Homo sapiens: one gene and its partners. The main gene of each other region encodes a partner of the protein of the gene in region 3 in a complex. Each region holds a gene or a part of one and is shown on either strand. Other genes may lie near its edges. The genes, in order: NUP205, NUP160, NUP93 and NUP85.

Region 1 (7,027 bases), on a different chromosome or scaffold from region 3:
TTTTGACCTAAGCCTGCACTAAAAGAAGTATGATATTGAGAATGAGGGGGATGTTCACTAGACATGCTTGAGTTTTGAGTTTAACTCGGAACTTTCATTTAACAAACATTTCTTCTATACCTACCATGTGCCAGGCATGGTGTTAATTATATCACTCCAGTGATATAAAGATGAATAAAATCTCAACTAGTGTAAATACGCTCATATTCTAATAATTGAGAATGATGTGGAAACAAATATTTTGACACAATTAAGTACAATTAATGCAGTTTTGTGCAAGATTTAGAGATGGTCCAGAGATTTAGAGATGGTATTAGATGGACCTTGATTGTACAGAGAACTCTTAACAACATCATGAAGTTTAAGGTAGATGTTGCAAAATGAGTAAGCATACATCAGGTGGAATAGGTGGTTATTTGGGAGGATGAAGGGCATCCAGGCAGAAGAAATTGCCTGTGCAAGAGGGTGAAGCAAGGTGATGAATTTGGGGAACAGAAAGGAGTAGAGTGGAGGAGTAGTTGCAGTAAGGGGAAAAGAAAGCTTTAGGAAATGAAACTGAAACTATAGGCAAAGTACTCTTAAAAAAAAAGTGAAACTTAGCCAGGCGTGGTGGCTCACACCTGTAATCCCACCACTTTGGGAGGCCAAGGCAGGTGGATCACGAGGTCAGGAGTTCAAGACCAGCGTGGTCAACATGGTGAAATGCCATCGCTACTAAAAATACAAAAATTAGCTGGGTGCTATGGCAAGTGCCTGTAATCCTAACTACTCAGGAGGCTAAGGCAGGAGAATTGCTTGAACCTAGGCGGCAGAGGTTGCAGTGAGATCACGCCACTGCACTCCAGCCTAGGTGACAGAGTGAGACTCCATCTCAAAAAAAAAGGTAGAACTCATTCAAAGGAGAGTAGTTAAAAGGTGACTGAACTTGAATTATAAAAAGGTTGTTTATTCAGAGAAGATTCCGAGGGAAGAAACTTAGAAATATTTGAAAGATTCCATATGAGATAGTAAAATGGGCATTGAATAAAATTAAATTTAGTGGACAACAGTGAGACCAAAAGATTCTCACCCAGTATGTAGAAATCACAGGTAAGTGTGAGAGTTAGAAATTGAGAGTTTGGAAAATGGTGAATTCCATGTCCCTGCTGGTGTTTAGGGATAAGTTGGATGGCCCTCGAATATGTTGAGCAAGAAGTTAGACAGTGGATGGATGTTTGTAGTAGAGGACCCCAGGGCCCCTTAAGCCCTGAGCTACTGTGATTCTTTGAACTGAACATTGTTATATTGATTTTTGTCTCCTCCTAAACACATACGTGTTTATTAACAATATTATTTCTCAACTTCCTTTTTTAGGAGAGCATCAACAGCCACATTTTCCTGGCCTTACCAGAGGATTAGTAGCTGTTCTTCTGTACTGGGATGGAAAGCGATGCATTGCGAATTCCTTGAAAGCCTTGATACAGTCTAGACGGGGAAAGACATGGACCCTAGAACTCAGGTCTTTTTACTTCTTGGGATTTCAGGGGTTAATTTGAAATTACTTGAAGTATGACAATATTTCCCTTATTATATACAATCTGAGCAATATGTAACATAAGCTGAGTAATATACTCCCTTATTCTGCCAAGACAGATATAACAATTTAAACCTGTTTTATTGTGTTTATAAATAAAAAATAATTTGGACCGAGGTGCAGTGGCCCAAATTATTTTTGGATTACAAAGTGCTGGGATTACAGATTACAGTCTTGAGCTCAGGAGTTTTAGATCAGCCTGGGCAACATGATGAAATCCCATCTCTACAAAAAATAGAATAATTAACTGGGCATGATGGCATGCACCTGCAGTCCCAGCTACCTGGGAGGCTGAGGTGGGAGAAAGACCTGAGCCTGGGACGTCAAGGCTGCAGTGAGCCATGATCACGCCACTGCACTCCAGCCTGGGTGACAGAGCAAGGCCCTGTCTCAAAAAAAGAGCGTTTGCTATACCTATTATTATGAAGAAGCATAAACAATATTGTTTAACGTAGTTTATTGATTTCTTTTCATTACAGTCCAGAGCTGGCTTCCATGACAACACGCTTTACAGATGAGCTGATGGAGCAAGGATTGACTTATAAAGTTCTTACGCTGGTGTCACAGATTGATGTGAATAATGAGTTTGAGAAACTACAGCGAGAGAGAGGTTTGGGCAGTGAAAAACATCGCAAAGAGGCAAGGGTTCAATGAAATCAATTCATGAGTTGTCTGTCAAATCTCAGAGGCAGAAACATGACAATTAGAATGTTCATTTTTTCAAGATGAATTATGTAGCTGATACCATGCCTGATTGCCACTTTTCTTTTTTTTTGCTTTTATTATTTTTCATTGACACAAAACTGTACATATGTATAGGGTACAGTGTGGTATTTTGATACATATGTATGATATGTAATAAATCATAATTAGCATATCCATCACCTCAAACGTTTATTATTTCTTTGTGTTGGGAACATTCAAAATTCACTGTACTACTGTTTGACAGTACAGTATACAATAAATTGTTAATTGTAGTCAGCTCGTAATGTATATTAAAGTTTGTAGTCAGCTGTGTCCATAAAATTGACTTGCAGTTGTTTCAGCTTCGGTATAGTCATTTATGTGCCATTCTAGCTCTTTTTATGAAATGAACAAGAAATTGGTCATCCCAATTTCTTAAGGAACTTAAGGATAAGGAATAAACAATAGGGTTTGTTCAGAATTCCAGAGGTGACGTCTTAGGATCACTTGTGGATTTTGATAGGTTTTTTTATTAGCCTTTGTAAAAGGTAGTTTGTACTTTGGAATAAGACCAGGCTTCACTGTAATTTATTTATACTGATAGTCATGTTTTTATTTCTAGGTTTCTGATCTCATTAAGGAGTGCAGGCAGTCTCTTGCAGAAAGCCTTTTTGCCTGGGCTTGCCAGTCACCTTTAGGCAAAGAAGACACTCTCCTCCTCATTGGACATTTGGAAAGAGTGACAGTTGAGGCTAATGGCTCACTGGATGCAGTGAATCTGGCTCTTCTTATGGCGCTTCTATACTGTTTTGATATCAGTTTTATAGAGCAAAGCACAGAGGAACGAGATGGTATTGAGTTTTATACATTTTCCTACATTAAAAAAATCAGATTTAAAATTGTGGGGATAACATTTAAAAAGGGTGATATTTTAGCTACTAAAATAGTCTGCTCTGTTCCTGTGTTTGCAGTCCGTTCATATTTGAATATTTATATATAAGATCACATTTAAAAAACAGCTGCAGTCCTGTTAATTATTTCTGTTTTTTGGGGGGATTTGGAATGGAAAGTATTAAAGCATATATTATACATGTTCATGATTGCACATGCCTAATTTACTTAATTGCTTGTTTCTTTACCATTCATTTACATTTTCAAACTTTTTATTAAAACATTCTGAGACAGTGACTGTCATTTCAGTAATGTAATCTTTGATCTGTGTTTTCTGTGAAGTAAATAAAATTTTTGTGATCTTTAGATAGCATGATTTCTATTTTAGAATTTATGTGCAGAAAAAATGAGTGTCTAACTTTTTTCTTGTTTATTTGTAGTACACTTATAAAAATGACTGAAAATAGTGAAATTGAAATTTAGGATTATTGTCATTTTCTTTTTTTGTTTTTAGTATGTGTACAATCAACAGTAGTGTACCTTTTGGGATGTAGAAATTAATGTTAATTGGTCATTATTCTTCTGTGAGAATGCTCAGATTTTCTGACTTTTGGATATTATTCCTGTGTATCAGAAGTGAGAATTTATCTGGTGATCGGTAAAGTGGTCTATTTTTGTGTTTTCAGATATGATTCATCAACTTCCACTGTTGACAGAAAAACAGTACATTGCAACAATTCACTCTCGTCTTCAGGACTCACAGCTTTGGAAACTGCCTGGGCTCCAAGCCACTGTTAGACTTGCCTGGGCGCTGGCATTGAGGGGAATATCCCAGCTACCTGATGTGACAGGTGAATTGATTGTAGGTAATTTTGTTATGAGAAACAGCATGTTAGCACTTAATGACATTTTTGGAAGGAGTATTATCTTTGACATACATAAGCATAAGCATAGGAAGATATCCAGAGTTGTATTAAATGAAACCTTTAGTGTAGTAGTGAAATACAGACTTTTTTCTCCTTGTCTCTCAAAAATATCATATGAAATACTATTTCCCATTCTTGGAGCCACTGACAATGCTCTTTTACCTTCAGGGTATGAGTTTAAAATTTGGAATGACAGTGTCACATTAATTTTTTTTTTTTTTGAGATGGAGTTTTGCTCTTGTTGCCCAGGCTGGAGTGCAATGGCACAGTCTCGGCTCACTGCAACCTCTGCCCCCCGGGTTCAAGCGATTCTCCTGCCTCAGCCTCCCAAGTAGCTGGGATTACAGGCATGCGCCACCACACCTGGCTAATTGTGTATTTTTAGTAGAAATGGGGTTTCTCCATGTTGGTCAGGCTGGTCTTGAACTCCCGACCTCAGGTGATCCGACTGCCTTGGCCTCCCAAAGTGCTGGGATTGCAACACGTGAGCCACCCCGTCCGGCCTTAAATGTTTTTTAAAATTAAAATATACTATTCCTTTTATTTTTATATATTTTACTTCTTGATTTGTTCACAAACTAGTTTTTCACATTGTGTCAAATTAAAAACAGTTATTTTTCCATACAGTGTATTAAAAAGGAGATATTTGGATCAGTCAAGAACAGATGTGGAATCCCGACTTTTCTTTTTTGTGGCCCAGGCTGGAGTGCAGTGGCTCGATCCCGGCTCACTGCAACCTCCACCTACTGGGTTCAAGTGATTCTCCTGCCTCAGCTTCTTAAGTAATTGGACTACAGGCACACGCCACCACACCCGGCTAATCTTTTGTATTTTTAGTAGAAACAGGGTTTCACCATGTTGGCTGGGCTGGTCTCGAACTCCTGAGCTCAGGTGATCCACTTGCTTTGGCCTCCCAGAGTGTTGGGTTTACAGGTGTGAGCCACCGCGCCTGACCAGAATACTGACTTTTAACAACCTGTTAACTCACTGTAGCATATATTATTCTGCTATTTACATTTACATTATTTAATTGTCATATTAGTAGGGGTTTATTCTAACAGAATGAGAACCATACATGGAACACGAAGCCCAAAGAATTGTCTTTTTATGGTAAATCTAGAAAGGCTTTATTCAAGTTTACAATTTATGTCAGTTTTCTAATCCTAAAGTATCAACAGATTCTAGTATCTTATCAATCGTGTAATTCCAGAACATTTTGTTTTCACTAGTGTCATGCTGTTCCCAAGGTGTTTGCAGAAAGCTTTTTTTGTGTTAGGAGTCTTTCTTTGGCCAGTTAATTTCTATCTGTCTGTCATCTATATATCTAAATGCTGATAGCGAATTAGACTTTTACATTCCCGTACAAATTCTGTTTCTCACCTGTACGTACCCTCATCATTTATAAGTCTTATTTCACTACTTTTCTGACATAAAGTTACCCTTTAACCTTTGAAGTGGCTATGTGATAGTTAATATCTTCTTTTTTTATTTTGGAGATGGAGTCTCGTTCTGTTGCCCAGACTGGAATGCAGTGGCATGATCTCAGGTCACTGCAACCTCTGCCTCCTGGGTTCAAGCAATTCTGCCTCAGCCTCCGGAGTACCTGGGACTATAGTCGCACGCCGCCACACCCAGCTAAGTTTTTGTATTTTAGTAGAGACAGGGTTTCACCGGGTTGCCTAGGCTGGTCTCGAACTCCGGAGCTCAGGCAATCTGCCTGCCTTGGCCTCCCAAAGTGCTGGGATTACAGGCGCGAGCCACCATGCCCAGGTGTGATAGTTAATATATTAACTATATAATATAGTTATACATAGATAGTTATTATAATATTATGTAATATGGTCACAATCTTATGCTATAATTGCCCATACCACTGCACTAGTTTTGAAAGGTTTAATAGAATATGCTATAGTTTGCTGTAGAATAATAGTAAAAATAGGTTAGGAATCACAGCCCTAGTTTCAAGTCCCAGATCTTTGGCTACTTAATCTCTTTGATTTTATATGCTCATATCCTTTTATAAGCTTTAATAGTTAGGGGTATTATAATTAGAATTTTTAAACTATAAAAATTTTTCTGTTAATTTGCATTTTAAAAATTGTTAGAAAAAATGACTAGCTTGTGTTATTTTGCAGAAATGGTCACTTCTTGAAATAATCCAGACAAGTTTTAACGAAGATCTCCAATTTGAAAAATTGGTTTCTGTTCTCTTCATAGACTTCTGAAACTTTTATCAAATGTTTTTATTATATTATTCTATAAAAGGCATGAAGCCAGGTGCAGTGCCTCATGCCTATAATCCCAGCATTTTGGGAGGCCAAGGTGGGAGGATTGCTTGAGCCCAGGAGTTCATGACAAACCTGGGCAATGTAGTGATACCTCATCTCTTCAAAAAATTAAAAATTAGCCCAGTGTGGTGACATGCCCTTGGCTGTAGTCCCAGCTACGCAGGAGGCTGAGGCAGGAGGATCACTTGAGCCCAGGAGAGAGGCTGTAGTGAGCTGAAATTGCTCCACTGCACTCCAGCCTGGGTGACAGAGTGAGATCACATCTCAAAAAAAATTAAAAAAACAAGCATCGGCCGGGTGTGGTGACTCACGCCTGTAATCCCAGCACTTTGGGAGGATGAGGCAGGTGGATCGCTTGAGGTCAGGAGTTCAAGACCAGACTGGCGAACGTGGTAAAAGCCCATCTCCACTAAAAACACAAAAAATTAGCCAAGCATGGTGGCGCGTGCCTGTAATCCCAGCTGCTTGGGAGACTGAGGCAGGAGAATTGCTTGAACCTAGTGGGCAGAGGTTGCAGTGAGCTGAGATCATGCCACTGCACTTTAGCCTGGGTGACAGAGTGAAACTCTGTTTCCAAAAAAAAAAAATCAACAAAAAAACCAAGCATTTTTGTAATTTCACTAAGCTTTACAGAATTTTAGCATACTGTTTTTAGGCATTGAAAC
Region 2 (7,687 bases), on a different chromosome or scaffold from region 3:
CACCATGTTGGTCAGGCTGGTCTCGAACTCCTGACCTCAGGTGATCCACCTGCCTCGGCCTCCTAAAGTACTGGGATTACAGGTGTGAGCCACCATGCCTGGCTTCCTTTACTTTCTTAATAAACTTGCTTTCACTATGCACTGCGGACTTGCCCTGAATTCTTTCTTGTGCGAGATCCAAGAACCCTCCCTTGGGGTCTGGATCGGCACCCTTTTCCTGTAACAAAACTGCATGTACTTGGGGTTTTTTGGTTATTGTTGTTGTTGCCTATCTTCCTCCATAAGAGTAGGGACTTTGTTTTGTTCCCTGCTATATCCCTGTTCCCTAAAAACGGACTGAAATACATTAGGCAAGCAAATTTTCTTTCTTTCTTCCTGTTTTCTTAAAAGAGATGGGGTCTTACCCTTTTTCCCACCTGGAGTGCAGTGGCATGATCGGATCCTCCCACCTCAGCCTCCTGAGTAGTTAAGATGAAAGGCACACGCTACTCCGCCTGGCTTATTTTAAAAAATCAGGCTGGACACGGTGGCTTACGCCTGTAATCCTAGCAAGTTGGGAGGCCGAGAACGGGGCACTGCTTGAGTCTGGCAGTTCAAGACCAGTCTGGACAACAAGGCAAAACCCCATCTCTACAAAAACAAATAGAAAAATTAGCTGGGCATGGTGGTGCATACTTGTAATTCCAGCTACTTGGGAGGCTGAGGTGGGAGGGTCACTTGAACCCAGGAGGCGGAGACTGCAGTAAGCCATAATTGCACCAATGCACTCCAGCCTGGACAATGGAGCCAGACTGTCTCTCAAAAAGAAAAAAAAAAAAAAGCAGAAAGAAAAAAAAATTTTTTTTGTAGAAATGGGGTCTTGAACTCCCGGCCTCAAGAGATCCTCCCACCTCAGCCCCCCAAAGTGCTGGGATTACAGGTGTGAGCCACTGTGCCCAGCCAAAATATTTAATTAAATGAAATTTGTATCTCTAACATAAAGTCACTCTTTTGAGCCTTAGACCTGTAAACTTCAATGCCTACTTGACATTTCCAAAGGGCTGCTCCCCAGGTACTTCAAATTTACTATGTCCAATAGAATTATTCATATCTATCCAAAATCCATCTTCCGGGTATCTCTGTAAATGGCAACCCCTCCCCACTCACATCTGGTTAGTCACATGAGACACCAGGGAGCTGTCCTTGTTCTCTCTTCTTTTACCATCCCTTACCCCATATTCAATCCACCACCAAGCCCTAGTGAATCTATCTTCCAAAGGTATCTTGAATCCATCTACTTTTCTATTTCTAGTCATTCCCACAATTGAGCCACCAGCAACCCTTACTTGGGCCATGATAAAAGCAAAATTTTTTTTGTATTATACCCATCTAATCCAAATCCACTTTCCACAAAGTAGACTGAGATCTTCTAAAAATACATTTAAAAAAATTTAGATTCAGGGGTACATGTGCAGGTTTGTTACATGAGTATATTGTGTGTATATTCCTATATACATGAGGTTTGGGCTTCTGATGATCCTGCCGCCCAAGTTGTGAACACAGTATCCGATAGGTTTTCCAACCTTTGCTCCCCTCCCTCCCTCCTTTTGGAATCCCTAGTGTTAACTGTTCCCATCCAAAAATGCAATTTTGATGTTAGTAACTCTTTAAAAATCTTTCAATTATTACTCAATGTACTTAGGATAAAATCCAAAAATCCTTAAAAATGGCCTAAGGGTCCCTCATGGTCCGAGTCCTGCCTACCTCTCCAGCCTCAGTATCTCACATCACTTTCTGTTTTACCCACTGCACTTAAGCCACACAGATCTTTGGTCAGTTCCAAACCCGCCACATTCTTTCCACTTCATGACCTTTGCATATGGTGATCCTACTTGCTGGACTCCTCTCTGTCCACTCCCCATGCCTGGCTAACCTCGTGTCCTTTAGATCTCAGGGTAACTGTGAATTCCTTAAAGCCTTTCCCTGCCCCACTAATTATATTTGGTCCTCTTATTAGCCTCTCATAACCCGTATATTTTTCCTCTAGGGCAAGTTTTCCTCCAAAAAATTTCCCCATGAAAAGTGGGTCTACATCTATTCTGACATTGCTACAACGTCTTGCATGATGAAAATTGCAGTTTTGTTCATTTCGTCCTGGTACCTAGCACAATGCCTGACATATTGAAGCTCGAACGTATTTGTACAATGAAGGAAGCTGTAAAGCACTATAAAAACATAACGGGTTCATGTTTAAAATTGGTCTTATGGGCTTTATTCCCCTAAGCTACATTTCCTCTGCTTCTGGTGTTGCTTGGTGTATGTGTGTGTGGGGGTGGGGGGGGGGAGGGGGAGAGGTATCTCTTCTAGAACTCTGTGTCTCAGTTTTCCCGATTCTGATACGAACTGAAAAAACAATCTTTCTCTTTCCCTAAGTGTCAATTACCGCTTCTAGAATAGCACTTTGGGTACAGCGACGAAAATTTATACACCAAACCCTACCTTCCAGGGGAGTTTGGCGAACCACAACACTTACCAATGAATGAACCTGTTTCTGGTTACGGAGAACAACTTGCCACTCTCCACGTAGTAAAAGCCTCCCGCGCTTTCACTGTATTTTACGGCGCCAGCCACGGCATTTGCAGTCCCTGCAAAATGAACGTGGTCAGCCTGCACACGCGTCTTCTGAGAAATGACAGGGACTAAGGGAGCTGACAAAGCAGAGAGTGACAGACTGACAACCCATACAAAGAAAAGAGGAAAACGTCGGACATCAAGGAATCTCTGATCCCGGGGCTAGAGGCATGTGGACTCAGGAGGATGAAACAGGGCGTCAGGGACCCTGGGACCCATGAGAGGAGCCCGAGGGGACAGATGGGATCGCACCCTCCCTGGCCATTTCCGTACCAATGCTGCAGACTGTGAATTCCCGAAAGTGCCTCGGCCTTTCGCGCTCAGCTCCGCTTAGCTCCACGAAGCTCCGTTCCAGGGCTCCCGCCGCCGCCATCTTCCCGCCGTCGCCGCGACGCCCAACGGAACAAAGGCAGGGCCGCGCGGTCGCCGTCACTTCCGGGGGTGGGGCGGGCGGAGCTGCGGACAGGTGAAGCATTCCGGGAGCAGAAAGGCGGCTCCGGCCCTTCGTTGCGAGGCTTCCACCGGGAGAATGAGGGTGGGCAGCGAGGAATCCAGAAGAGAAGGGGGCAGGGGAGGCAGACTCTATCTGCGGGAACCTTCCAGTGGCCGGCTGGAACGCCTCCGGAGGGCGGTGCTCTTTTCTCAGCGGCCGCAGGGCAGGGGGCGGGGCCGGGTTTGTTTCTGTTTCTAAAACGCGGGGCTCAGTCGACCAGGAGGGGCGAGGTCCGGGGAGTCCCGGCCTTTCGGCGTCCTCTGCCGGATCCCGGGTTTATGGTCACCTCTCCCTCGGTTAGGGTGTCCGTCTGTAAATCTTTGGCGATCCTCCCTTCGCTCTTCAGTGGCGACACTTGGGATGGCGGGGTGAGGAAGGGGTAGTGAGGGAAAGGCCTTTGGTTTTGGTCTTTCCCCTCCCCAAGAGACTGTATTCGTGTATTCCTGTATAATGAAACGTAATGTGGTAAACCTTGGTGCTGCCACTTGCTGAGGTTACCTGAGTGCTACTCACTTGGATACGTGAAAGGAATTTGCCATTCCTTCCACCCGTGATCTTGCACTTGGCTGTCAATGCAGTAAGGGCCCATAGTGGGTGTTTAGAAGATATTGTGGGAGTAGATGTTCAAAATCGAGGAAAATGCTAATCTCCAGCGGGGAAGGTTTTGTTCCTTAGTGATAGCCAATAGAAGTTAAAGCACTTCTATTACCAGTGACCACAACCATTCCCTGTCATTCTCCGTTTCATTTATCTGGTTCCGACCATCATTTTCTATCTTTCCACTTCACTCCCTCTGGGACACCAACTTTGGCAGTGCAGTCCCCTCATTCTACCTGGAATCCATTGTTCTACAAAATCTTCACTGTCCCACACTTCTTTGGTGTTTCTTTCTTATCCTGAATACCATTAAATTACTTCATTGCCTAACTCTTCATCGGTAAAAACTACAACTTCGACTACATTCAAATCTGTAGCTGAACATGACTGGAGAAAACTATACACCCGGGTCGGGCGTGGCTCCCAGCATTTTGGGAGGCCAAGGCGTGAGGATCACTTGAGGTCAGGAGTCCGAGACCAGCCTGGCCAACATGGTGAAACCCGGTCTCTACCAAAAATAGAAAAATTAGCCGGGCGCGGTGGCTCACGCCTGTAATCCCAGCGCTCTGGGAGGCAGAGGTGGGTGGATCACGAGGTAAGGAGTTTCAGACCAACCTGGCCAACATGGTGAAACCCTGTCTCTATTAAAGATACAAAAAATTAGCCGGGCATGGTGGTGCACGCCTGTAATCCCAGCTACTCGGGAGGCTGAGGCAGGAGAATCGCTTGAACCTGGGAGGTGGAGGTTGCAGCGAGCCAAGATCGCGCCACTGCACTCCAGCCTGGGTGACAAAGCGAGACTGTCTCAAAAAAAAAAAAAAAAAGAAGAAAGAAAAAAAGAAAAATTAGCTGGGCATGATGGTGCGCTCATGTAATCCCGGCTACTTGGGAAGCTGAGGCAGGAGAATCGCTTGAACCCGGAAGGTGGAGGTTACAGTGAGCCAAGATCTCGCCGTTGCACTCCAGCCTGGGCAACAAGAGCGAAACTCCGTCTCAAAAAAAGAAAAGAAAGAAAACAGAAAACTATACACCCATACTGACATGCCTCCCTGTAACTCCATCAGGACCATGTACCTTGAGTGGGCCCATAATGCTGCCCAGCAAACACATTGTATTTGCCTTCTCCATTTACTGTTCTAAATGAATATTTCATAACTCCTATAACCTCCATTGCCTCCTTTGTCATCCTGACTCTCAGCTTGCTTCTTCATTTAGAAAATTAAAGCAGAGGCTGAGATGGAAGGATGGCTTGAGGCCAGGAGTTCAAGACAAGCCTGGGCAACATACCCCCATCTCTAATAAAAATTTTTAAAAAACTAGCCAGGCATAGTTGTGTGCCTCTGTAGTCCCAGCTATAGGAGGTTTCTTGAGCCCAGGAGTTGGAGGATACAGTGAGCTACAATCCTGCCACTGTGCTCCAGCATGGCCAGAAAGACACCCATCTGGAAAGAAGGAAGGAGGAAGGGAGGACTTCCTCTATAATGACATCTCCCCACCTACCAGCATCTGTAACCACATATTTTGCCTTCCCTTCCTGTTACTATAAACTGTCTCTGAGCTTATGCAGAGACAACCTTTCTACTTCCTTAGAACACCTGCTCAAGGACATCATTCTAGCAATTCAATTATTTCCATTTTCAGTCTTTTCCCCTTTTCTCTTAGTACTGTATGTACTAAGCATACAAACATTCCCTCGACCTCCACTCTCTGCAGCTACTACTCCATATCTCTTCTCCTCTCACCCACAGCAAAACTCAAGAGTGTTTTAATTCCTTCTCTCTCATTCTCATATATATATATATATATATATATATATATATATATATATATATATATATATTTTATTGAGATGGAGTTTCGCTATTGTTGGCCAGGCTGGAGTGCAATGGCACAATCTCGGCTCACTGCAACCTCCGCCTCCTGGGTTCAAGAGATTCTCCTGCCTCAGCCTCCCAAGTAGCTGTGATTACAGGCATGCGCTGCCCTGCCTGGGTAATGTTTTTTGTATTTTTAGTAGAGACAGGGTTTCACCATGTTGGTCAGGCTGGTCTCGAACTCCTTACCTCAAGTGATCCACTTGCCTCGGCCTCCCAAAGTGCTGGGATTACAGGCGTGAGCCACTGCATCTGGCCTCATTAAATCCATGTTTTTCAGGCTTTTGCTTCTACTGCCTTGCTGAAACTGCTTTTTTCCGGGTTATCAATGGCATCCACATTATCTGTCTAATACTAAACTGCTATTTCTTTTTTCTGACACATAATCTTGCTCTGTTATCCAGGCTGGGGTGCAGTGATGTGATCCCAGCTCATTGCAGCCTCAAACTCCTGGGCTGAGGTGATCCTCCTGCCTCAGCCTCTCGAGTAGCTGGGGCCACAGGCTTGTGCCACCATGCCCTGCCAAATTTTTTATTTTTTATTTTTTGTAGAGACAAGGTCTTCCTATGTTGCCCAGGCTGGTCTCAAACTCCAGGCCTCAAGCGATCCTCCTACCTCTGCCTCCCAAAGTGCTGGGATTACAGGCGTGAGCCACAGCACCTGGCCTGAACTGTTATTTCTAAGCTTATTTGACTACTTGTAGAATTTGACCAATTGCTTGCTCCTTCCTCGTGGAAACACATTCTTCATGTGGCATCAAGGACGCCACTCTCTTGATTCTACCTATTTCACTAACTGTTCCTTTTCAGACTCCTTTCCTAGATGCTCCTCTTTTCCCCAACCTCTTGATGTTGGAGTGTCCAGAGTTCAGTTCTTGGTCCTTTCCATCTACAAACACTCCCCTGAGAATCTCACCCAGTCTTCTGGCTTTAAATACTGCATTGTTATATGCCGATCATCCCCAAATGTATACCTCCAGTCTAAGCTTCTCCCCCGAAGTCCAGGTTTATATATTCAACGGCCTATTTTGTATCTTAGATGTAACATGTCTGAAACTGAAGTCCTAACCTCTCTCCCCACACTTACTTTCCCCATCGCAGTTACCAGCACTGTTCCAGTTGCTCAGCCTCCTGAGTAGCTGGGATTACAGGTGCTTGCCACTACGCCTGGCTTATTTTTTTTGTATGTTTAGTAGAGATGAGGTTTCACAGTGTTAGCCAGGATGGTCTCAATCTCCTGACCTCATGATCTGCCTGCCTCGGCCTCACAAAGTGCTGGGATTACAGGTGTGAGTCACCGCGCCTGGCCACACTTCAACTGTTATTATTTACAAATTCCTGGTTATCTAAGTTATAACTGCTCATGACACTGATGTGCCACAGTAGAGAGAACTATTCCGAAGACTGATTATTTCCACTTTCATATCTAGAGGTCAGACCTCTTTTGCCGAGTTCTCAGCCTTTTATATTCAGTTGCCTCCTTGATGCCCCTTGGATTTCCCATGGACATCTCAAATTCAACATATCCAAAATGTTACCCCTCTCTATATAGTCTCACTATATACTCTCACATGTAGTCTATATCTGTGTGGACATCACCACTGTGGCCCAGTCTAGAAATCTAGTAATTACCCTGGACTTTTCTCTTTTAATCCCAACACCCAAATCTCATATATCCATATGGCAAAAGAAAGATGGCCACAAATTCTTTGACATTGTTCCCATCCAGAAGTGTAGCCTTCTTTGTCCCCTCCCCTTAAATCTGGAGGGTTCTGTAACTGCTATAAGGAATATAATACAGCAAAAGTGATGCTGTGCCAGCCTAGCTTAAGAGAGTCTACATCTCTCTTTGAAGACTGGCTATAGGGGAAGCAAGCTGCCATGTAAGAAATTTGGCTACGCCGGGGCCATCCTAGGCAGATTGCAGGGAGAGACCACACACAGAGACTCTAATTCTACTTGAAGTGAGAGATGCCTGGTAAGTCCCCAGGTCCCAGATATTTTGTAGAGCACAGATGAGTCATGACCACTGAGCCCTGTCCAAATTGCATATTAATGAGCTAAATACATGATTGCTATTTTTATTTTTATTAAATTAAATTAATTAATTAATT
Region 3 (7,701 bases):
TGCCTGTTTCCTCCCTTCATACTCCTGTACATGCTAAGTACACACTCTCTATAACACATCCCCAACCCTATCTTGTCACATGGGGAACTCCTATGTATGCTGCAGCCAGCTGGGAAAGTCCCACCTATGCCAACCCCTCCCACACTACTCTGAATCTTCTATACTGTTCTTCCCTAGTGCAGCAGTTGTGATTATTTCATCACACATATGTCTCCCTCTCTAGTGGCAAATTTCCTATAGGGTAAGGTCCACAGATGCTCAACTCTGAGTCCTCAGCATTAAGTCTGGCACATAACAGGATCAGATACATATTTGTTGAATTAAAGTGACCTGTTCCCTGAACACACCAGTGAAAGATCTTCCCTCTAACTCCATATTCTTTAAATAAACTTTTTCATGAGGAGTGGGCCCTCTCACCTTCGGATCTTTGCTCCAACCTGTCCCCCTCCTTGGCACATCCATCTTTCTGTCAACCTTATTTTCTACATCAGTCTATGAAGAGGCTGGTTCAGACCCTCAGGCTCACCACATCTCCAGCTGTTCACACTGCACGGTCTTTGCACCTGCTCTACCCACTACCAGCAATGCTCTCAGATAGTCCCATGACCTGCTCATTCATTTCAAGCAGGTCTCTATTCAAATATCCCTGTCCTCCTTTAAGAAACAGCCCTGACATCACACTTCCTATCTGTGCTTTTATTGCTAGTGGTACCCTCCACAGGCTTATCAGTTCAATGAGGGCAGGCCTGTCTCATTCACCACTGCATCCCCATGCCTGCAAGAGTGCCAGTAACATTCATCTAGTTCATATTTTTTGAGCACCTACTGTGTGCCAGACCTAGGTGCTAGGAACACATCAGTGAACAAAACAGATAAAAATCCCCTCACTCACATTCTACAGGGGGAAGACAACAATACACAAGAAAAATACGTGAAATATAAGTGCTAAGAACAACTAAAGCAATGAAGGGAGGCGGGAAATGGGGAAAGCCTCACTAGGTGCCTCCCTAGTGAAGACCTGGAAGAAGTGAGTGCAAACTACATGGATATTAACTTGCAAGCACAAATGCCCTGAGGCTAAAGCATGTCTGACGTTTGGAAAGGGAGGGAGCAGAAAATGAGACTGGGAAAGTAACAGTGGGTCAGATTATGTAAAGCCTTATAGCTCACTGTAAAGGGGTTTGTCTATCATTATTAATGAGATGGGGACCCATTGGAGGGTTTTTTTTTTCTTTTAAGTAAAGGAATGATACGATCTGACAGCCTGTGTTTTAAAAAGATCCCTCTAGCTGCTGTGCAAAAAACAGGGGCCAGGACAGAAGCAGGAAGACCAAATGGGAAACTATTTCAATAATCCAAACCAGAGGTGGTGACCTGGCCCAGGGTGGCAAGTATTATTTGTGGCGTGAAAAACAGAAGACTGGGTGTGGTGGCCCACACCTGTAATTCCAACACTTTTGTGGGAGGCCGAAATGGGCGGATCACTTGAGGCCAGGAGTTCAAGACCAGCCTGGCCAACATGGTGAAATCCCGTCTCTACTAAAAATACAAAAATTAGCCAGGTGAGGTGGTACACGCCTGTAATCCCAGCTACTTGGGAGGCCGAAGTAGGAGAATCACTTGAGCCTGGGAGGCAGAGGTTGCAGTCACACGATGACACGAGATCGCACCACTGCACTCCAGACTGAGCGACCGAGGGAGACTGTCTCAAAAGAAAAAAAAAAAAAGGAAAGAAAAGAAAAAGAAAGACAGCAGTCAACGATGGCTCAAAAGTTATTAGCCAAGGTCTTTCCTATTATTGAGATGAGAAAAAAGAGGCAACAGGAGCAGTTTGGGGAGAGTAATGAAGGGGAGCTTGCTAGCCCTCTCTTGGCATGTTTAATTTGAGTTGCCTATAACCCATCTCAGTGGAGATATTAAGTGGGTGGCTGGATAAAAGTCAGGGGTGAGACCTGCGATGGAGATATAAATACGGAATCTGTTAGCCTCTGATATGTATGTATTTAATGCTATGAAATCACCATCAATGAAAATAAAAATATTGCAAACACAAATGCACAAAGGAGAATTTAAAGAAAAAAAAATAAAGAAGAAAAGCTAGGATGACCGAGGATACCCTCCCACATACCCTGGAAAGAATACAAAAAGGTGACCCTCGCTTTTGCTGAAAGACAACTCGGTCAAAATAAAAATTAAATAAATAAAACCTCCTTCCCACGTCTGGCAGAAGGGCAAATCCAGACCAGAGGCTCTGTCAACGTGTCTTTCATACTTTCACCAAGGACCCATGGGGTCGGCCCCATAATTTTTTCAAAAGAAACCCAGTGAACTTGGGCATCGCCTCTGCAGGGAACGGGATGGAGTAAGCACAGAGAAGGGTGGGCCACCCCTGGGTTCCAATCACCAGCATCCTCCTGGATGTACAAAAGGTAAGCCAAGGGTTGGGATAAGTTCCCCTCGCCCCAAAGACCCCTTCCCTCGCAGAGCAACGCCTCCCTACAGGGTGTGTCCACGAGGGGTAGGCAAGCAGGCAGGGCACGGTCAGGAAGGTAAGCAGGCGGGGCGTTGTGGCGCAGGCTTAGGCAGGGTGGGCTCGCGGGGCACGAGGTGGAGGTGAGGGCAGGGGCGTGGCGCGAGGGCACCACAGTGGGGAAGGGGGAGTCGGGAGGCCTAGGTTCTGCATTCAGAAAGTGGACGAATGAAAGGCACCCCCAGGGATGCAGCCCGACTCCAAGCCTCGGGGGCGGCTCGACAAGGCGTTGTGTCGCCGGCGTCAGGCGTGCCCGGCTGCCATGAGGAGAACGGGAAGTATGAGCGGCGGGGTTCCGAGCGTGGGGACGGCGCTCCACCCAGTCACGGGGTCCTGGGTTCAAGGACAAGCCCAGGGTCGCAAGGACGCGACCAGACACACCCTTACCTTGTGCTACAGCCGTCTCCGCCGCTCAGGTGCCGGCTTGAGGACGCGGCCGCCGCTTCTCGCGCCGCTCTCCCCCGCTTCCTGATTGGCCAAGGCTGGCCGCTCCCAGAAGCCCTCGCGCGGTGCGACGCCAAATGAACTTTATGGAGACCCGTGGGGGAGGACAAGAACAGGGGCGGGGCCGGGGGCGGGGCGGAGGTGGGGCCTTGGGCCAAACCGTCACCCCTGGGCCACAGGCAGCCACGGACCTCGCCTTTCCCACTTGGTTAGAGTCGGCTCTGCCGGGAGAAAGCGATTCCAGAATTCCCTAAGTTAAAGGAATTTCTTACTCCTTCTTGAGCGCCATCCAAGGGCCAGGCCTTAGTCTAGGAACTGGCAACACCGTGGCGACCACGTCAGACAAGATCGCTGCCCTCATTGAGTTCCCAGGTTGGCAGGGGAAACAAAAATGTAATAAATAACTGCACTTTGCAAGAAGAGCTATGAAGAAAAAACAGGGTGATGGGAGAGAGAATGCTTGGATGTTGAAGGGAGGCCTTTCTGAGATGGCGACATCTTGAGCTGAATAAAGAAGGATGAGAAAGGATGGGGCTTGCAAAGTTCTGGCTTCAAAGAATTCCAGGCAGAGGGAACAAGAGTGAAGTCTCCAGGGGAAGCCAGCTTAGTGTTTGGAGACTAGAAAGAAGGGGTGTGCGGCTGGAAGATGGTGAGTAGGGACAAGTGGGGTCAGACTCATCCATAGACTGGATGGCTTATACACAACAGAAATTTTTTTCTCACAGTTCTAGAGGCTGGGAAGCCTTAGATTAAAGCACCCGCAGATTCAGTGTCTGCTGAGGGCCTGCCTCCTAATTCATAGATAGCACTTGATATGGTTTGGCTCTGTGTCCCCACCCAAATCTCACCTTGAATTATAATCCCCATAATCTCCACATATCAAGGGTGAGACCAGGTGGAGGTAACCAGATCATGGGGGGCAGTTTCTGGCATGCTGTTCTCACGATAGTAAGTCTCATGAGATCTGGTGGTTTTATAAGCGTCTGGCATTTCCCCTGCTTGCACTCATTCCCTGTCCTGCTGCCCTGTGAACATGTGCCTTCCACCATAATTATAAGTTTCCTGAGGCCTCCCCAGCCATGCGGAACTGTGAGTCAATTAAACCTCGTTTCTTTATAAATGACCTGGTTTCAGGTATTTCTTCACAGCAGCATGAGAACGGACTAATATAGCACTCTTCTCCCTGTAACCACACACAGAAGGGTGAGGGGAGCTCTCCAATATTTCTTTTATTAGGGCTCTAATCCCATTCATGAGGGCTTCACTCTCATGACCCAATCACCTACCAAAGTCCTCCCCTCTTAATACCATCCCAATGGAGAGCAGAGTTTCAACATATAAATTTGAAGGGGGAGGACACAAACATTAAGAAGTCTATAGCAACTAGTGTCCAGCTTTGTTTATTTTTAATACCTCACACCAGCATATTGTGAGTTCTCTATAAATAATTGGTGCTGATTAACAATATGTATGAATGTGGCCTTTGCCCTGAAGCTATTATATATGTAACCAGACCCCGCTATGGTCAGAGAATATCCACAAAGATAATAGTATCTTGCATCTGAATAATGTTTTATACTTTTACTTTGCTTTTTCTTTATGTAAAAAAAAAAAAAAAAAGCACTTTTAATGACATAGACAAATGCTTGTGCAATATTGCCAAATGAAAATTCCGGACACTTGCCTTTTAAAGCTGAATATTTCTACATTGTAAAACCCAGTAATTCAACTCCTAGATATATGCCCTAGAGAAACTCTTACACATATGCACCAGGAGTTATAAGTAAGAATCTTCATAGCAGCACAGTTCATATTAGCAAAAAACTTGAAACAAGCCAAATATCTGTTAACCAAAAAAAAAAAAAAAGGATAAATAAATTGTGGGATATTATGCAATGGAGCATTACACAGCAGTGAAAAATGAGTGTGCTTCAGCCACAGATACACCATGGATGAATCTTGGAAACATAATGTTAAATGGAAAAAGTGGCCAGGCACAGTGGTTCACGCCTGTAATCTCAGCACTTTGGGAGGCTGAGGCAAGAGGGTAGCTTGAGCCTCAGAGTTCAAGACCAGCCTGGGCAAATGGTGAAACCCTGTCTCTACAAAAAATACAAAAAAATTGGCTGGGCATGGTAGTGTGCAGCTGTAGTCCCAGCTACTGGGGAGGCTGAGGTGGGAGGATCACCTGAGCCCAGGTGGTCAAGGCTGCAGTGAGCCCTGGTCGTGCCACTGCTCTCCAGCCTGTGCAACAGAGTGACACCTCATCTTAAAAAACCTTGCAGTTTTCCAGATGGTCTTCCCATATACCTTCCTATCCCCAGAGATAACCACAATCTGACATTTCATATTTATCATTCCAATGTTTTATAGTTTTATCACAAATGTATCTGTGCATAAACAATATATTATTTGGTTTTTTTGGTTTGTTTTTTGTTTTCTTGTTTTTAAGAGAACTGGGTGCATTGGCTCATGCCTTGCCAGAAGAGCTTCCTTAAACATCACTTTATCTGAGCTCAGAATCTTTCAAGAGCCTTTGCCTTGAGAATTGTTCTGAGATGTGCCCCAGAGCCCCCGCAAGGCCCCTTTCTCAGAGGTGGGGATTTTCAAGCTCTTTCCTACTTAAAAGGGAGCTGGGTGGTGGTGGAGAGTCCTTACCTTCCCTCATTTAGTCCTACTGGGTCCCAAACATTATTTAACAGAATCCTGTTTTTCAAAGGAAGTATTTGATGGAACCCTGTATTGTAACACAGATTTTGCATGTCTTCTATACATACCAAGTGTATAACTCTACCTTTTTTGGCTGCATGATGATATCAAACAAACACAGGCCTTTGTACTCTCGTCTGGTTGAATTGTGCTTTTGAATATTCTTAGTCTTCAGATGAACTCATTGAGTATATGGGATGTGTATTCAACGCACTATACCGTATTACCAGACATTTGCTCTCTAATGGGACGTCTTTTAACACTTGGACTCCCCTGTGGAGCGTTCCTGCCCCAAATCTCAGTCCCTGTGTTTTGATTGGTGGCATGTGACTCAGGCCTCGCCAATCAGAGCAGAGTAGTGCAGTACCCTGGCCACAGGGACTGGTTCAGGAACTGGTTTAGAACCCAATAGGATCAAGAAAATGCACTCTTAAGATGTTCTGCTCAGACACTTATCTTTATGACTGGAATAAATTAGAACTGTGAAGATGTTTTTGTAGGCATTATCATTCCTTTCAAATTTTTGTTTGTTTGTTTGTTTGTTTGTTTATTTTGAGACAGAGTTACACTCTGTTGCCCAGGCTGGAGTGCAGTGGCACAATCTTGGCTTATTGTAACCCCTGCCTCTCAGGTTCAAGTGATTCTTGTGCCTCAGGCTCCCTAGTTGCTTGGATTACAGGTGTATGCCACCACACCCAGCTAATTTTTGTATTTTTAGTAGAGACGGGGTTTCACCATATTGGCCAGGCTGGTCTGGAACTCCTGACTTCAAGTGATCTGCCCTCCTTGGCCTCTCAAAGTGCTGGGATTACAGGCATGAGCCACCATGCCCGGCCTGTTTGTTTATTGTCCACAAGGGAAGAATTTGTCTGGGGAGGAAGACAATACAGAAGAGAGCCATGTAGTGATGGAGAGAGAGCCTGTACTCAAGTGACATTGTGACACAGCTTCTGGATCAAGCTGTGCCTAAAGCTAACCCTAACCCTGGAATGTTTTGTTGCATGACCCAGAAAATTTTATTTTTTGCTCAATTTCACTGAGGTTTTACATCACTTGCAATCAAAATAATCCTGAAGGATGCAGGTATTACTTGAGCCCTTATAACGTCTCATCTAACATGCTTATTATAAGGTCAATAGGCCAGAATTCAGTAAGCTTAATTCAGTAAACTTTTCCCAGTCGAATTGCTTTTCCATCACATGCAATATAGGGAGGTATTTTCCACAATGTCAAGAAGAATGTTTTCACCATCAGATTACATTTTATTCTACCCATTAACAAAATAATATTAAACAGTTCCATTTACAAAGAAGCTGAGAAAGTCTTATTTTCATGTTCATTGCATTTTGTTCCACAATGACATTGTAACTTGGCAAGGAATACAGAATTATATTGCATGGTTTTGTTTCTGTGTAAGTTCAGTGAAGACAATGGTCAACTTTAATTATTAAAAAGATGAGGCTTTTAGATACACGGCATTACAAATTTGCTTGAACCCACAGAATGTACAACACCAAGAGTAAACCCTAATGTAAACTACAGACTGGGTGATCATGATGCATCAAATGGGCTCATCAGTTGTAAGAAATGTACCACTCTGGTGGGGGATGTTGGTAATCGGAGAGGCTAGGCGTGTGTACAGGCAGGGGGTATGTGAAAAATCGCTGTACCTTTGGCTCAATTTTGCTGTGCTCCTAAAACTGCTCTAAAAAAATGTCTATTAAAACATTTTTTAAAGTAAGGTTCAGCTGGGCACGGTGGCTCATGCCTGTAATCCCAGCACTTTGGGAGGCTGAGGCAGGCGGATCACTTGAGGTCAGGAGTTCGAGACCAGCCTGGCCAATATGGTGAAATCCTGTCTCTACTAAAAATACAAAAATTTGGCTGGGCACGGTGGCTCACGCCTGTAATCCCAGCACTTTGGGAGGCTCAGATGGGCGTATCATGTGGCCAAGAGATTGAGACTATCCTGGCCAACATGCTGAAACCCCATCTCTACTAAAAATACAAAAATTAGC
Region 4 (7,583 bases), on a different chromosome or scaffold from region 3:
TGAGGTAATAAACAGAAAAACAACCAAATGTGCCAAGATGGATAATTTGGAAGAAAAAAAACCCTACCTTTTTTGTTGAAGGAGGTTTCACATACCAGCATCTCCCCTGGACCCCAGTCAAAATACATTTGGTTCTTCTTGGAATTCACGCCTGGAATCAACTAGTAAAATAAGGCATAGAAATCTAAAATGAAAAATGTTCTTCTTACTGAAGTTGTTCCATTCTTTTTTTTTTTTTTTTTTTTTTGAGACAAAGACTCACTCTAACAGGCTGGTGTACAGTGGTGTAATCTCAGCTTGCTCCAATCGCCGCCTCCTGGGTTCAAAGGCTTCTCCTGCCTCAACCTCCTGAGTAGCTGGGACTACAGGTGTGTGCAACCACACCCGGCTATTTTTTTTTTTTTTTTCATTTTTAGTAGAGATAGAGTTTCACCATATTGCCCAGGCTGGTCACAAACTCCTGAGTTCAGGTGATCCGTCCGCCTCAGCCTCCCAAAGTGCTAGGACTACAGGCGCGAGCCACCGTGCCCGCCCTGCTGAAAAACACTTTAAGTGAAGAGCACAGCTGGTCCTCTAATAACACTGTATCCTTCAATAACATTTCCTTATAACACTGGTAAGAAAAATTCATTTTGGGCCGGCAGCGGGGTGGCTCCTGCCAGCACTTTGGGAGGCTAAGGCGGGCAGATCATCTGAGGTCAGGAGTTCGAACTCTTGTTGCCCAGGCTGGACTGCAGTGACGCAATCTCGACTCACTGCAACCTCTGCCTGCTGGGTTCAAGTGATTCTCCTGCCTCAGCTTCTTGAGTAGGTGGGATTACAGGCACGCGCCACCAAACCAGGCTAATTTTTGTATTTTTTTAGTAGAGATGGGGTTTCACCATGTTGGCCAGGTTGATCTCGAACTCCTAGCCAAGCGCGGTGGCTCATGCCTGTAATCCCAGCACTTTGGGAGGCCGAGGCAGGCTGATCACGAGGTCAGGCTTTGGAGACCAGCCTGACCAAGATGGTGAAACCCCATCTCTACCAAAAATACAAAAATTAGCTGGGTGTGGTGGCACGCACCTGTAATCTCAGCTACTCAGGAGACTGAGGCAGAAGAATCGCTTGAACCCAGGAGCCAGAGGTTGCAGTGAGCTGAGATCACGCCACTGCACTCCACTCTGGGTGACAGAGTGAGAATCCGTCTCAAAAAAAGAATGAGGCCAGGCGCAGTGGCTCACACTTGTAATCCCAGCACTTTGGGAGACTGAGGCCGGCAGATCACCTGAGGTCAGGAGTTCCAGACCAGCCTGACCAACATGGAGAAACCTCGTCTCTACTAAAAAAATACAAAATTAGCCGGGCATGGTGGCACATGCCTGCAATCCCAGCTACTCAGGAGGCTGAGGCAGGAGAATTGCTTGAACCTGGGAGGCGGAGGTTGCAGAGAGCCGAGACCGCACCACTGCACTCTAGCCTGGGCGACAAGAGGGAAACTCCGCCTCAAGAGAAAAAAAAAAGAAGGCCACATATCTCCCCAGAGAGCTTCCCTCACAAATTGCTCACAAGGAAATTCCTTGTGAGCCTCTAAAATTTTCAGGATACACATCGCCCCTATAAACTAGTCCTAAAATCAAGATCTGTTGATTCTGACAATGTCAACTACCAGCTTATCTTCACAAGTAAAAGACCAGAAATCGGCCGGGTGCGGTGGCTCACGCCTGTAATCCCAGCACTTTGGGAGGCCGAGGTGGGCGGATCACGAGGTCAGGAGATTGAGACCATCCTGGCCAACACGGTGAAACCCCGTCTCTACTAAAAATACAAAAAAGTACAAAAAATTAGCCGGGCGTGGTGGCGGGCACCTGTAGTCCCAGCTACTCAGGAGGCTGAGGCAGGAGAATGGTGTGAACCCGGGAGGCGGAGGTTACAGTGAGCCGAGACCGCGCCACTGCACTCCAGCCTGGGAGACAGAGCGAGACTCCGTCTAAAAAATAACAGTAATAATAACCATAATCCCTCTACCTACCCTGAGATGAATGCATACATAAAATTTTCCTCTGCTCCCTCTTTTCACAGGTAAAATGCAGATTTACTGAGGCTAATCACCGACTCACAAGAATGTAATCATTTGCCTCCTCACTGCCTAACCTCCCTTTTTTGCCCCTCCTGCTAGCTCCTTCCTCTTTAACTAGTGATGTTCCCAAAACCATCTTTGGAAAAAGCACAGGTCTCAGATCCTCCTGTGACCTGTGCTTTTTCCCGGTTGGATCCTCAACCTTAGCTAATTAAACCTTTATCGGTTGAGACCTGCCTCAGTCACTTCTGGTTAACAAGAGGGAAAACAAGAGCAATCCAACTAGCAGAAACGGTAGGTATCTCGTACATAAAGCGCGTGAATTTTTTTTATACACATCACAGATCATCCACAGTTGACATACTGTCTTCAAAGTTCAAATGGAATTGAATGCACAGCGATAAAACAGGAATAGTCTCCTGAGATAATACGTTGAATAAACCTTAGGCCACACAGGCAGAAGCTCAATGTGCCGCGATGCAGAGCTTAATACGGCTGGAATAAAAATATAAATTCCTCTGCTTGGGCTGAACCCACTCTAATGCCCAAGAGGAAAAGCAAGGGAAGTAAAAAGGCCAGGAACACAAAGGAAGGAAAGGGACGGAGTGGGACCTTCGAGGCCGGGGTTTGTGACTGGTGGCAGAAACCCCGCGACCACTGCGACCCTAGGGCGGGCACCTCGTTAACACTGCGACCTCCGGAAAAGTGGCAACTGAGTCGAGGGAAGGGGACGAGCGCCTCGCGACCACTAGGGAAGCAGACAAGCCTGAAGTAACTAAGCAGACGCAGTTCTCAACCCGCAAGGACGAGCAAGCCTGTTCGGGGTACCCTTACAGTGACTGTTGGCTCGCCATCGAGCTCCTCCATAGCGCCGAACCCCAGGCTCCTAGAAGTCGCTCGGACGCCAATGCTTCCCGCTCAGGCCTCCCGCTCAGAGCTGGCTGCGAGACAAGACTCCGCCTGGGCGTCTCCTGCAGCGCCTGCAAGCCCAAACCCTCAGTGCTGCGGCGCTGTCTCCTCTCAGCCACGGCCACCCCTCTGCGGTCCTCTGCACGCGTCCTTCCTTCCTGGCGTCGACAGCAAATCAGGGAAAACAGCGCCGAGGACTGACTGCACTCAGAGTACCGCGCTAACAGGATCAGGCGGCGCCGGGGACACCCTGGTGCCGAGCGGAGAAAAGGCCCCCGGAGACGGCGGGAGGGGCAGGAGGACCCCGGGGCTGGAGACGGTGCGAATGCGCGTGCGTAGGCTGGGGCGGCGGCACTTGGGTGGGAACTCGTGCGGGATTTAGGTCCCAGTAAGCGTACAACGTCTCCCAACTCTGGGAGTCCTCGCTACATCCCGGTCTCCACCTTAGTGTCGTCGCAGCCACTTGTCCAAACCCCGACAGTCAAACGGGCTTGTGCTGGAAAGCAATCGCCTCCACTTCCACACTAGAACACACACAAGAGGCACGGGAACAAAATCGATACCCCTGAAGGCCCGGCGCTGTGGCTCAAGCCTCTAATCCCAACACTTTGGCAGCCCAAGGTGGGTGGATCACTGGAGTTCAGGAGTTCAAGACCAGTCTGGCCAATATGATGAAACCTCGTCTCTACTAAAAATATAAAAAATTAGACGGGCGTGGTGGCGGACACCTGTAATTCCAGCTACTCGGAAGGCTGAGGCAAGAGAATTGTTCCAACCCGGGAGGTGGAGGTTGCATTGAGCCAAGATCGCACCACTGCACTCCAGCCTGGGAGACAGAGCGAGACTCCGTCTCAAAAAAAAAAAAAAAAATTAGCTGTGCTTGGTAGCGCGCGCCTGTAATCCCAGCACTCCGGGACGCCGAGGTGGTTGGATCACCTGAGGTCAGGAGTTCAAGACCAGCCTGGACAACATGGCGAAACCCCGTCTCTACTGAAAATACAAAAATTAGCCGGGAGTGGTGGCGGACACCTGTAATCCCAGCTACTCGTAAGGCTGAGGCAGGAGAATTGTTCCAACCCGGGAGGCGGAGGTTGCAGTGAGCCAAGATCGCGCCACTGCACTCCATCCTGGGCGACAGACGGAGACTCCGTCTCAAAAAAAAAAAAATTATTTTGCTGAGTCTCAAAAAAAAATTATTTTGCTCTTTTTCTCTTAATAAGTTTCCGTTATACCTCAAGTTGGAGTTATCGCCTGTGTAATTGAAAACTTTTCCAGAGTTAAATACAGTTTGAGAGTTAACCACTCTAGAGAGAGGAAGGGGAAAAGAGAGGGGAAGGAGCCACACTCTTTTAGAGAGAGGGGAGGAGAGGAAAGAGAAAAATAAGTTGTAAGATAATTGTTTCATTTTTCCAACCGTTTTCCATTAGGATTAACTGAAAAAGAAGGATACATAAACTACTTCATCAAAACCTTATTCTTAGAAATCTATAGAAAGGTTGAGGAAGGAAAAGGTCCATATATAGTATGCGTAATCAGTATATAGAACAAGGATAGGCCGGGCGCGGTGGCTCACGCCTGTAATCTCAGCGCTTTGGGAGGCCGAGGCGGGTGGATCACCAGGTCAGGAGAGAGAGACCATCCTGGCTAACACGGTGAAACCCCATCTCTACTAAAAATACAAAAAAAAAAAAAAAAAAAAAAAAAAATCAGCCGGGCGTGGTGGCGGGTGCCTGTAGTCCCAGCTCCTCGGGAGGCTGAGACAGGAGAATGGCGTGAACCGGGGAGGCGGAGCTTGCAGTGAACCGAGATTGCACCGCTGCACTCCAGCCTGGGCGACAGAGCGAGACTCCGTCTCAAAAAAAAAAAAGAACAAGGATAGCACTATTAGCTGTAGTTTTCCTTTTTCGCCCTTGTATTACTAAGCCTATTTGAATGATTGGGTAAAATGGTTGGTATATAGCAGTATTAGACCAAAGAATATTGCCAATACTTTTTCCTCAATGTTATCTAGCTCTTGGTCAGGCAATTTAACTACTTTTATTATCTTAAATGGCATTTTGTCAGCCTTAAAATAAAAATAATCAAGGAAATATAGCACTAAGATCTAACAAGCTCTCTCTCTCTTTTTTTTTTCTTTGTCTTTTTTTTTTTTTTTTTTTTTTTGTCTTTTTGAGACAGAGTCTTGCTCTGTCGCCAGGCTGGAGTGGAGTGGCACGATCTCGGCTTACTGCAACCTCCGTCTCCCGGGTTCAAGCGATTCTGCTGCCTAAGCCTCCCGAGCAGCTGGGACTACAGGCACACGCCACTACGCCGGGCTAATTTTTTATTTTTTAGTAGAGACGGGGTTTCGCCATATTGGTCAGGCTGGACTCGAACGCCTGACCTCAGGTGATCCACCCGCCTCAGACTCCCAAAGTGCTAGGGTTACAGGCATGAGCCACCGCACCCAGCCTGGTAAAGTCTTAAGTGGATACATTTCATGCAGCCTAATAAAACTAATGCTCCTGAACCGGGCACAGTGTACATTATTTAACAAAATCTCTGGCCTCAGCCTGGGCAACAGGGCAAGAGCAAGATGCTGTCTCAAAAAATAAAAAATAAAAAAAGGCCGGGCGCGGTGGCTCACGCCTATAATCCCAACACTTCGGGAGGCCGAGGCGGGCGGATTACCTGAGCTCAGGAGTTCAAGACCAGCCTGGGCAACAAGATGAAACCCCGTCTCCACTAAAATACAAAAAATTATTTGGTCATGGCGGTTGTGCGCCTGTAGTCCCAGCTACTGAGGCTGAGGCAGGAGAATCGTTTGAACCCTGGAGGCGGAGGTTGCAGTGAGCCAAGATCATACCACTGCACTCCAGCCCGGACGACAGTGTAAGACTCCCTCTCAAAAAAAAAAAAAAAAAAAAAAAAAAAAAAAAAAAAAAAAACTCTAGCTGGAACTAGTGGCACATACCTGTAGCCCTAGCTACAGCAAGAGGAAGGAGACTGAGGCCAGAGGATTTCTTGAGCCCAGGAGTTCAAGTCAAGGCTGCAGTGAACTACGATTGTTATAGCACTATACTCCAGCAAGACCCTGTTTCAAAAGCAACAATATGGCCAGGCGCAGTGGCTCACGCCTGTTATCCCAGCACTTTGGGAGGCCGAGGTGGGCGGATCACGAGGTCAGCAGTTCGAGACCAGCCTGGCCAATATGGTGAAACCCCGTCTCTACTAAAACTACAAAAATTAGGCATGGTGGCAGGCACCCGTAATCCCAGCTACTCCGGAGGCTGAGGCAGGAGAATCACTTGAACCCGGGAGGCGGAGGTTGCAGTGAGCCAAAACCATGCCATTGCATTCCAGCCTGGGTGACAGAGGGAGACTCCGTCTCAGAAAGAAAAAAAAAAAACAAAAACAAAAAAACAGGCTGGGTGCGGTGGCTCACACCTGTAATCCCAGTAGTTTGGGAGGCTGAGGTGGGCAGATCACCTGAGGTCAGGAGTTCGAAACCAGCCTGGACCAACATGGTGAAACACAGTCTCTACTAAAAATACAAAAATCAGCTGGGCTTCATGGCATCCGCCTGTAATCCCAGCTACTAGGGAGACTGAGGCAAGAGAATCGCTTGAACCCAGGAGGCAGAGGTTGTGGTGAGATGAGATCACGTCATTGCACTCCAGCCTGGGCAACAAGAGCAAAACTCCAACTCAAAAAAACAAAACAAAACAAAACAAAACAACACCCCACCAAGAACAAGAACTCCAACTTCTGACCTTTACCCACTAGATGCCAATAACATCCCACAATTGTGAAAACTGAAAATATCTGCATATATTCCCAGTGTCCTCTAGGGGGCAAAATCACCTCTGTTAAGAGCTGCTGGTATATATGTTCAACCGTAGAAGTTAGCTAAATAAATTATATCAGTGAGATGTTACTTTACTCACCTGTTTAAAATAACTATGAAGACTGACAGGACATGAAAAATTATTTCAAAAAGTTTGAAAATGTTCATCTTTTTGTCCTCATAATTACACTTCCAAGAAATAATCAAGAGAGATGTGTTTTATATAAGCACCAAAAAGGAGATTTAAATGAATAAAAGAAGTGCCTCACAAATAATTTTTATGCAGAATTCTTATTAAAAGGTTATTTGGGGCTGGGCACGGTGGCTCATGCTTGTAATCCCAGCACTTTGGGAAGCCAAGGCTGGCAGATCACCTGAGGTAAGGAGTTCAAGACCAGCGTGACCAATATGGTGAAACCCTGTCTCTACTAAAAATACAAAAAATAGCCAGGCATGGTGACCCATGCCTGTAGTCCCAGCTACTCAGGAGGCTGAGGCAGGAGAATCGCTTGAACCCGGGAGGCAAAGGTTGCAGTGAGCTGAGATCATGCCACTGCACTCCAGCCTGGGCGGCAGAGCACGACTCCATTTCAAAAAAAAAAAAAAATGCCAGGCACGGTGGCTCACACCTGTAATCCCAGCACTTTGGGAGGCTGAGGCGGACAGATCACCTGAGATCGGGAGTTCAAGACCAGCCTGACCAACGTGGAGAAACCCAGTCTCTATGAAAACTACAAAAATTAGCCAGGCGTGGTGGCGCACACCTATAGTCCCAGCTACTCAGGAGGC

What was found.
Region 1: NUP93 (region 3) and NUP205 share a complex: the UniProt entries of both Homo sapiens proteins name them as parts of the nuclear pore complex.
Region 2: NUP93 (region 3) and NUP160 share a complex: the UniProt entries of both Homo sapiens proteins name them as parts of the nuclear pore complex.
Region 4: NUP93 (region 3) and NUP85 share a complex: the UniProt entries of both Homo sapiens proteins name them as parts of the nuclear pore complex.

Annotation. Positions count from the first base shown.
Region 1 is NC_000007.14:135,574,917-135,581,943, forward strand, and holds part of NUP205 (nuclear pore complex protein Nup205), read left to right. Parts: intron 1-1,353; coding exon 1,354-1,498; intron 1,499-2,052; coding exon 2,053-2,212; intron 2,213-2,879; coding exon 2,880-3,108; intron 3,109-3,834; coding exon 3,835-3,999; exon of another isoform or gene 4,000-4,010; intron 4,011-7,027. UniProt on the Homo sapiens protein: Plays a role in the nuclear pore complex (NPC) assembly and/or maintenance. May anchor NUP62 and other nucleoporins, but not NUP153 and TPR, to the NPC.
Region 2 is NC_000011.10:47,845,336-47,853,022, forward strand, and holds the start of NUP160 (nuclear pore complex protein Nup160), read right to left. Parts: upstream 2,984-7,687; coding exon 2,884-2,983; intron 2,625-2,883; coding exon 2,513-2,624; intron 1-2,512. UniProt on the Homo sapiens protein: Functions as a component of the nuclear pore complex (NPC). Involved in poly(A)+ RNA transport.
Region 3 is NC_000016.10:56,725,428-56,733,128, reverse strand, and holds the start of NUP93 (nuclear pore complex protein Nup93), read right to left. Parts: upstream 3,001-7,701; 5' UTR 2,918-3,000; intron 1-2,917. UniProt on the Homo sapiens protein: Plays a role in the nuclear pore complex (NPC) assembly and/or maintenance. May anchor nucleoporins, but not NUP153 and TPR, to the NPC. During renal development, regulates podocyte migration and proliferation through SMAD4 signaling.
Region 4 is NC_000017.11:75,201,105-75,208,687, reverse strand, and holds the start of NUP85 (nuclear pore complex protein Nup85), read right to left. Parts: upstream 3,010-7,583; 5' UTR 2,927-3,009; coding exon 2,894-2,926; intron 162-2,893; coding exon 68-161; intron 1-67. UniProt on the Homo sapiens protein: Essential component of the nuclear pore complex (NPC) that seems to be required for NPC assembly and maintenance. As part of the NPC Nup107-160 subcomplex plays a role in RNA export and in tethering NUP96/Nup98 and NUP153 to the nucleus.